Linked DNA regions of Homo sapiens. The protein of the gene in region 1 interacts with the protein of each later gene in a biochemical or structural test. Each region holds a gene or a part of one and is shown on either strand. Other genes may lie near its edges.

The links.
Region 2: the proteins of FTH1 (region 1) and NCOA4 form a complex in vitro, tested with the Homo sapiens proteins (one study listed by BioGRID).

The regions. Positions count from the first base shown.
Region 1 is NC_000011.10:61,965,984-61,969,896, reverse strand, and holds the start of FTH1 (ferritin heavy chain), read left to right. Parts: upstream 1-2,262; 5' UTR 2,263-2,471; coding exon 2,472-2,585; exon of another isoform or gene 2,586-2,603; intron 2,604-3,913. UniProt on the Homo sapiens protein: Stores iron in a soluble, non-toxic, readily available form. Important for iron homeostasis. Has ferroxidase activity. Iron is taken up in the ferrous form and deposited as ferric hydroxides after oxidation. Also plays a role in delivery of iron to cells.
Region 2 is NC_000010.11:46,023,818-46,027,730, forward strand, and holds part of NCOA4 (nuclear receptor coactivator 4), read right to left. Parts: intron 3,712-3,913; exon of another isoform or gene 3,649-3,711; coding exon of another isoform or gene 3,615-3,648; intron 1-3,614. UniProt on the Homo sapiens protein: Cargo receptor for the autophagic turnover of the iron-binding ferritin complex, playing a central role in iron homeostasis. Acts as an adapter for delivery of ferritin to lysosomes and autophagic degradation of ferritin, a process named ferritinophagy.

The DNA.
Region 1 (3,913 bases):
TTTGTCCAGCAGTAAGCATTTATAGTTTTTTCTATATATTTCTTGTTAACTTTATTCCAAGGTACTTTAAGCTTTTGTTGTCAATGTAAGTGAAAAACATTTTTTTTTCCATTCTTTTTTCCCCATATTTTCTAACTGGTGGTTACTGTTATAAAGGAAAGCTTTGGATCCTATATATGGTGACTTTGCTATACTCTTATCCTAAGAGATTCCCAGTGTAAGGTTTCTAAAAACAAAGCTAATGAGGTGTCTCTATGCTGTCTCTAGGATCAAGTTTAACCTCTTTTTATGGAACACAACCCTGCCCGATCTTGCCCCTATTCTCCACCCTAACCAGCATCCCCCAACATAAACTGTACTTTCCAGGCCAACATTCTTTCTTTCTTTCTTTTTTTTTTTTTTTTTTGAGACGGAGTTTTGTTTTGTCTTCCAGGCTGGAGTGCAAAGGCGCGATCTCGGCTCACTGCAACCTCCGCCTCCCAGGTTCAAGCGATTCTCCTGCCTCAGCCTCCAGAATAGCTAGGATTACAGGCGCATGCCACCACGCCCGGCTAATTTTTGTATTTTCAGTAGAGAAGGGTTTAGCCATGTTAGTTAGCCAGGCTGATCTCCAACTCCGACCTCAAGTGATCCGCCCGCCTCGGCCTCCCAAAATGCTGGGATTACAGGCATGAGCCACCGCGCCCAGCCCCAGGCAACATATTTTCTTAAGGCAGCTTTAACAGGCCATGCATTTCCACATTTCCACACCTTTGCATATGCTGTTCACTCTGCTCCAAATTCCCTTCCCTGTTTCTCTCCCGCACTTCACCTTCCTTTTAACTTTTTCTTCAAACTCAGCTCACGTGTCTTGCTTAGGGAGGGCTTCCCCGACCTCCTCCTATCCCAGACTGGGTAAGGTACTCCTGGTCTAGCAGCATCCTTCTGTTTACCTTATTCTTGTAGCTCTAGCACCACTAAAACGTTTTTCCTGTAAATAACATAGGTGCATTTTTAAATGAAACCGTGAACAAGAAATCACCCTAATTCCGTCGGCAATTTATTTTAGTATTTCAGTAGAGTTGCTTTTTTAAACTAAGGTTTGGAAGTCTAGCTTCCAGCTGCAGGTTTGTGAGCATCCTGAAATTCAGTTCTTCCACCGATGCGTCAAAAGACGCGACAGAACAGTGGACCTCGAAGCCAGGACCTAGGTAAGGGCAGGGCCTAGCTCTAGCTCTGCCACCCATAAATTCACATCCACCCTGTGCCTGGGACTCAGCTTAGCCACACACACCGGCCCCACCCCTCCGGGGTCTCTTTCACCTGTCACCCGCCATTAACCCCGTCAGCTTCTCTCCAATGACACCCCAGGGTTGTCCTACAGGGCCACCGAAGCCTGAAGCTCCTGTGAGTGGGGCCGATAAGAGGCCATTTTGAAAAGTCCTCAGCATGGGCTTCGCCTTTAGATCCACGTCGTTTCTCCTTTCTAACCCGAGATGTGTCCCTTGGGTGCGAAGCGACACCAGCGATTCTCTCGGAGGCCCCGGTGGCTCACCCCCACGACTCCCCGGGGAGGCGGTCCCCATCCCTAGGGAAACCCGGCCCGCCCAGCCTTTGTTGCAGAAACCGCACACGGAGCCATATTTGCTTTCAGCCAAAGGCAGACGTGGTCGGAGGAGTCGGAAGGGCAGGGGCGGACCCGAAACCCGCCGTGCGCCCCACTTCTCCATCGCGCTCCTTCCTGGACTCTGAGGAAGAGAAAATGCGCTCGACCACCTAAGGACCGCGTCTCCACCTTCCACCTTCCCAATCATCTGCAGCTTCCCAATCTGCAGCAAGGTGTCACAAGGGCTTCTCCGCAGCTATGATTTCTAACACCATGCCCCGGGCCAGGAGCCTCAGGGTGCCCGTTCGGGAAAATGGGAGCCGAATCAGGATCACCCCATGCGCCCCCGCACCCTTCCCCCGCCGGTTCCAACGCCCGGGCGCCCCTAGACCGGGGGGGGGGTTCTGAGGTGGACTTCCTGCGCCTCCTCGCAGCTTCCCTCCAACTCCACTAAACGGGCACAGAGACGCCACCGCTGTCCCAGAGGCAGTCGGCTACCGGTCCCCGCTCCCGAGCTCCGCCAGAGCGCGCGAGGGCCTCCAGCGGCCGCCCCTCCCCCACAGCAGGGGCGGGGTCCCGCGCCCACCGGAAGGAGCGGGCTCGGGGCGGGCGGCGCTGATTGGCCGGGGCGGGCCTGACGCCGACGCGGCTATAAGAGACCACAAGCGACCCGCAGGGCCAGACGTTCTTCGCCGAGAGTCGTCGGGGTTTCCTGCTTCAACAGTGCTTGGACGGAACCCGGCGCTCGTTCCCCACCCCGGCCGGCCGCCCATAGCCAGCCCTCCGTCACCTCTTCACCGCACCCTCGGACTGCCCCAAGGCCCCCGCCGCCGCTCCAGCGCCGCGCAGCCACCGCCGCCGCCGCCGCCTCTCCTTAGTCGCCGCCATGACGACCGCGTCCACCTCGCAGGTGCGCCAGAACTACCACCAGGACTCAGAGGCCGCCATCAACCGCCAGATCAACCTGGAGCTCTACGCCTCCTACGTTTACCTGTCCATGGTGAGCGCGGGCGGGCCTAAGCGGTGGCGGGGGCCGGGCGCGGTTCCCGGGGCGCGCGCTGGGGCGGGCCGGGGGTGTGGCCACCCGCGGGCTCTCCCGCCTCCCTGCGCCCTTCTGGAAAATGGAGGCTGCTCGAGGTTTCCGAGGACTTCTCTGGCGCAGAAAGTCGGGGCAGCTGGTTCTTCTCGGCTGTACCCTGAGAATGCTCCCTCCTAGGCCAGGGCCGCCTCTGCACACCCTTCTTTTTTAAGGAGACCTTGGTGTCCTGAAATCCTGGGGTTGCAAGACTGCCAGCCTGTGTGATCAATCCTGCGGTTAGGAAGGTGGAGTTTTGCTTTCCCATCTTTTCCTCTGCCTCCGGCATTTGGCCCTAAATGCCAGCGTTTTTTGCTTAGGTATCCAGCTCCCGTCCGCCTGTGTGTGGCGGAGCTGCTGGGTAACGGTGTCGAATAGCAAACCTTGGGGGCTGGCGGGAGGTGGCTTATCTTGTGGGTAGATCCCTCTCGAGCAGCCGTATCCACCTCTCGGCTCTGCTTATCTCTAAGTCCCACTTGCTTTGAAGCATATCTCTAGGAATCGCCCCTTCTGCAGTCACCGAAGTGTCACCTGACCTTGCGCCTAGGGGACCTAATTTATCTTTTATGTATCTTACTGTAAGAGGTGTGGAGTTTGGCCTACTAATTGAACCCCCAGTTCTTGGATAAAGTCCACCGACAGTTACTGGGCAAGAAATTTTTCAGTGATCAGTGGAATCAGTTTTCCCAAATCTTGGTCTTAGGCAGTGTCGTGGGAGTCTTCCTTAGAATTGCCTTGTGATTGTCCAAACTATCCCAAGAATAAATGTGTTCCAAATGGATTTGAAAACAGGCCTGTATTTCTGTGACTGTCACTGCCTTTCACAAACACTTGACTACATCAAATGTCTAAAACTGAAAATCAAATTTTTGTGATATAACTATTATAAAAGTATGTTTACATCAACATACTGTCCACATTTGCCACCTTGCATGGGGGTTTTTAATTTGTGTGTGTGTGTGAGAGACAGAGTCTCGCTCTGTCGCCCAGGCTGGAGTGCAGTGGCGCGATCTCGGCTCACTGCAGCCTCCGCCTCCTGGGTTCAAGTGATTCTCTTACCTCAGGCTCCTGAGTAGCTGGAATTACAGGCGCACGCCACCACGCCCAGCTATTTTTTTTTATTTTTAGTAGAGACGGGGTTTCACCATGTTGACCAGGATGGTCTCGATCTGCTGACCTCGTGATCCGCCTGCCTCGGCCTCCCAAAGTGCTGGGATTACAGGCTGAGCCACCGCACCCAGCAGGGGTTTTTA
Region 2 (3,913 bases), on another chromosome or scaffold:
ATGCTTATGGTACTTCTAGCTTTCCCTTTTCTCCAAGATAATCCTCATAGCCTGCATATGCAATCAGGCCAAAAGATGAAATCTAGACAATGTTGTAATTCTATTACCTTTCAGTCGATTTTTTGAATGTAAAATACTTGCTGTTGTCTATGCATATAAAGCTGTTTTTGTTAATATTAAGAGTAAAGCAAAATCACATGAGAAACACCAAAGGGGAACACTAAGGAGCCATTACCCTAAATTAAGTATCCCTTAGATTTCAGATGAACAGAGTGGAAGTGCCTGCTTTGTCTGTGATGCATACAATTTCTGGGACCCCAATCCAGGCATTCATTATCAAAAATAAGAAAATTTCTCCCTAATTCCAAAAGCCCTCCTTGGATAATACATTTCGTAAAGACACAAAAAAAACAGACATACTTCTGAATGACTAAAGTTACAATTTTATGGTCCTTTGTACTAATTTACATCAATGGCAACAAAGAAGGAATTCTATTAAAATATAACTCATGTCAGGAACTTTCATCTATTTTATGTGCCTCTGAAAAATGGCTGATCACAATGTAAATACAAAGAAACTTTGTTGGCCGTCACCTACTTAACCAACGGTCTCTGTTCTCTCTCTAAAAGATCCTGACCAACGCCCCAGCACAGTAAAGTCTTCAGCTACTCCCCTATGTATATGTTCACTGAGTTTCACAGTTATATTCATTTGTGTTTCTCTCCTCAAGCCAGCTGTAGCTGTTACTATAATGATGTGATTTATTAAATATTACATAAACATAAAAAGACTAAGGAGAAAGAAAATCACAAAAATCTAAAATTCTGCACTCAGACCACTTTACATGTAGCTTTTTACTCCCTTATGCTTCAGTATTTGCCCTTGTGTCTTTATAAAATGTTTAGGTTCTAAAGGGGAAAAATGCATAAGGTATTTTACCTCTCTTCTGCTTCAAGAATTTCTATGCTGTCTCAAAACAACAACCAACCATCCCAAGTAGATCATCTCATCTAAAGCAGCGTAGCTCTCCTATGGCTCCCCATTTGCCTACAGGATAAAGTCCAAATTTCTTTTAAAGGCAATAAGGCTCCTGAGTTAGGGTTCTCCAGAGAGATGGAACATTATATAGACAGACATAGATATAGACATAAAGATATATACAGATATAGATATGAGAGGGGATTTATTAGGGGAACTGGCTCATGTGATTAGCAGGCTGAGACATCCCATGACAGGCTGTCTGCAAGCTGGAGACCCTGGGATGCCAGTACCATGGCTCAGTCCAAGTGCAAAGGCCTCAGAACCAGGAAAGCAGATGGTGTAACTCTCAGTCTGAAGCCAAAGGCCTGAGAACCCAGGGGGCCAATGATACAAGTCCTGAAGCCCAAAGCCTGGGGAGCCTGGAGTTCTGTTGTCCAAAGACAGGAGAGGAAGAATGTATCCCAGCTCCAGCAAATAGATCTGCCTTTTCAATGTTTTTGTTCTCTCTGGGCCCCAGCAGATTGGATGGTGCCCACACACACTGAGGGTGGATTTTCCCCACCTAATCCACTTGGATTCACACCCCAATATCCTCTGGAAACAGACACACCCCAAAATAACATTTTACCAGGTTTCTAGATGTCCTTAATCCAGTCAAGTTGACACCTAAAATTAACCATCACAGCTGTCTATTTCCTGGCCTCACTCTGACTCTCCTGCTGTCTCCCAGAACAGCTCCCACACCCTAATCTACTGGACAGCTTTTCTATGCATAGGATAGTTTGGTTTATCTTGTGCAGCTTGGCTATGCCAGTTCTGTCAGCAATGCCAGTCTCTCCTCTTCTCCCTACCTATCTGCTTTTCAAGTCACCATCACTAACTACAAAGCCTTTCCTGACTGAGCACCTCACTCCTCAATACTTTTGGCCAATAGAGTTGGCTGCTCCCTCCTGCATTACCACTGTAATCTGTATGGGTTTCCGGCAGGACGCCTGTAACATATGTTACCCTATTGTTACATGCCTGCCTCCTTAGCCTGAGGGCTCCATGAGAGAAGAAACCATGTCTTATTTATGAATTAATAGCTTTGTACATCCTAATACTAAGCAGACAACCTGGTATCAGTACCTTGTCATTACCAACCGTTCACATTCTATGTGTGCCACTGAATCGACATAAAGAGAAAATGTCCCTGGCAATTGTACAATGCTTCACCCTAAATTCAACAGAGGCCTAAGACATTTTGGACAAACGGATGAATATATGATAAATTAATGTTTAGGTTCAGACTAGCCACAGTAAGTATGGTATAGTTCTGCTTTAAACATAGATAATCAACTTGATGTCCCACTAAGGCCTGTATTAATGCAGGAAGGTTTTTTCAGAGAAAGAAAATGTTTCTAGCACAACTATTACTTTTGGCTTTTTTCAAACAAGACAAAGCTGGCAAGGGTGTTGCCACTGAAAGTATGATCCCAGAATAAGTGCTGAGATAGTGTCTTTCCTGCTGCCAGAACCACAAAGCTCAGCTTCATGGATTCACACAAATAGCAGCAAGATTGTGGGTTAAAGGGGACACATTTACTGTATTTTACAGCCAACTCTGGATTTTTTCTTCAGAGTTGGCAGTACCACAGAAATTCTAACTGAATTTCAAGTTGAATATTGGGGGGACTATATTCAACTTGAAACTTCTTGCCATAATAGAGTCAAGGATAGGAAAATATGTTAACTTACCTACTATCACAGTAATAATGCCATTTTATCCTGATTTTATATGGCAAACACTTTGTGGTTCTCCCCATAGAAGCCAACAAGTGATAAAATATTAATATTTTCCCTCCTTTAAAGCCTAGAGGACTAACAATAATGCCAAAATAAAGCTCAAAACACACCTGAGATTATCTTCTTTTGAAAGCTGAAATTGTCTCAGTATTAAAAGACTTAACTTCTCACCCATGACCAAACTGACAACAAAACCTTTTAACCTATTTTGTGAGCTACTCACTACTTCACTGAACCAAACTGCCATATTTGTAGAGCACTTAGGTAATGCTGCATAAGAGGAATATTAAGCCCCAAAGGTGCCCCCAAACACACTGCTAACCCCAAAGAGGAACATCTTGATTAATCAAGCCAAGCAAAATTAGGGATGACAACTTGGGATAAGAATGACTAAGAGTGGTCCGGGCGCGGTGGCTCACGCCTGTAATCCCAAAACTTTGGAAGGCCGAGGCGGGCGGATCACGAGGTCAGGTCAGGAGATCAAGACCATCCTGGCTAACACGGTGAAACCCCATCTCTACTAAAAAACACAAAAAATTAGCTGGGCGTTGTGGCGGGTGCCTGTAGTCCCAGCTACTCGGGAGGCTGAGGCAGAAGAATGGCGTGAACCCGGAAGGCGGAGCTTGCAATGAGCGGAGATCGCCCACTGCACTCCAGCCTCCTGACAGAGCAAGACTCCGTCTCAAAAAAAAAAAAAAAAAAAAGAATGATTAAGACTTAAGACTGTAGTCATTCATATCAGAAGTTAAGCATTGCAATGTTATGATTTAACAATCAAAGAAGATAAGCTAAGGACAATATGGCAGCTCCTCTAACTGACATGCATGGAGATAGTATTAATGCCTACCAGCTAGAGCAAAAGTGGTCAACTGGGCCCCCATTCCAGCCTAGACCTCCACATTGTTCATGTGCGTTCTATGTTGAAGCAATGTGTCCAGACATAACTGTATGAAAACAAAGTCAAGATGAAAACCTTGGATGAAAATTTTAAAAGGACTAAAAAGTAGCAAGAAGAGTAATAAAAAATGCCATGGCCTTCTACAGTTCTTCCATGAAACTGAACTTAACCCAATGCATACATACTGGTTGGGTGGTCTGTTATCGACACTTTAGGCTTGCCTTTGCAACCTAACCAGTATGTGAACA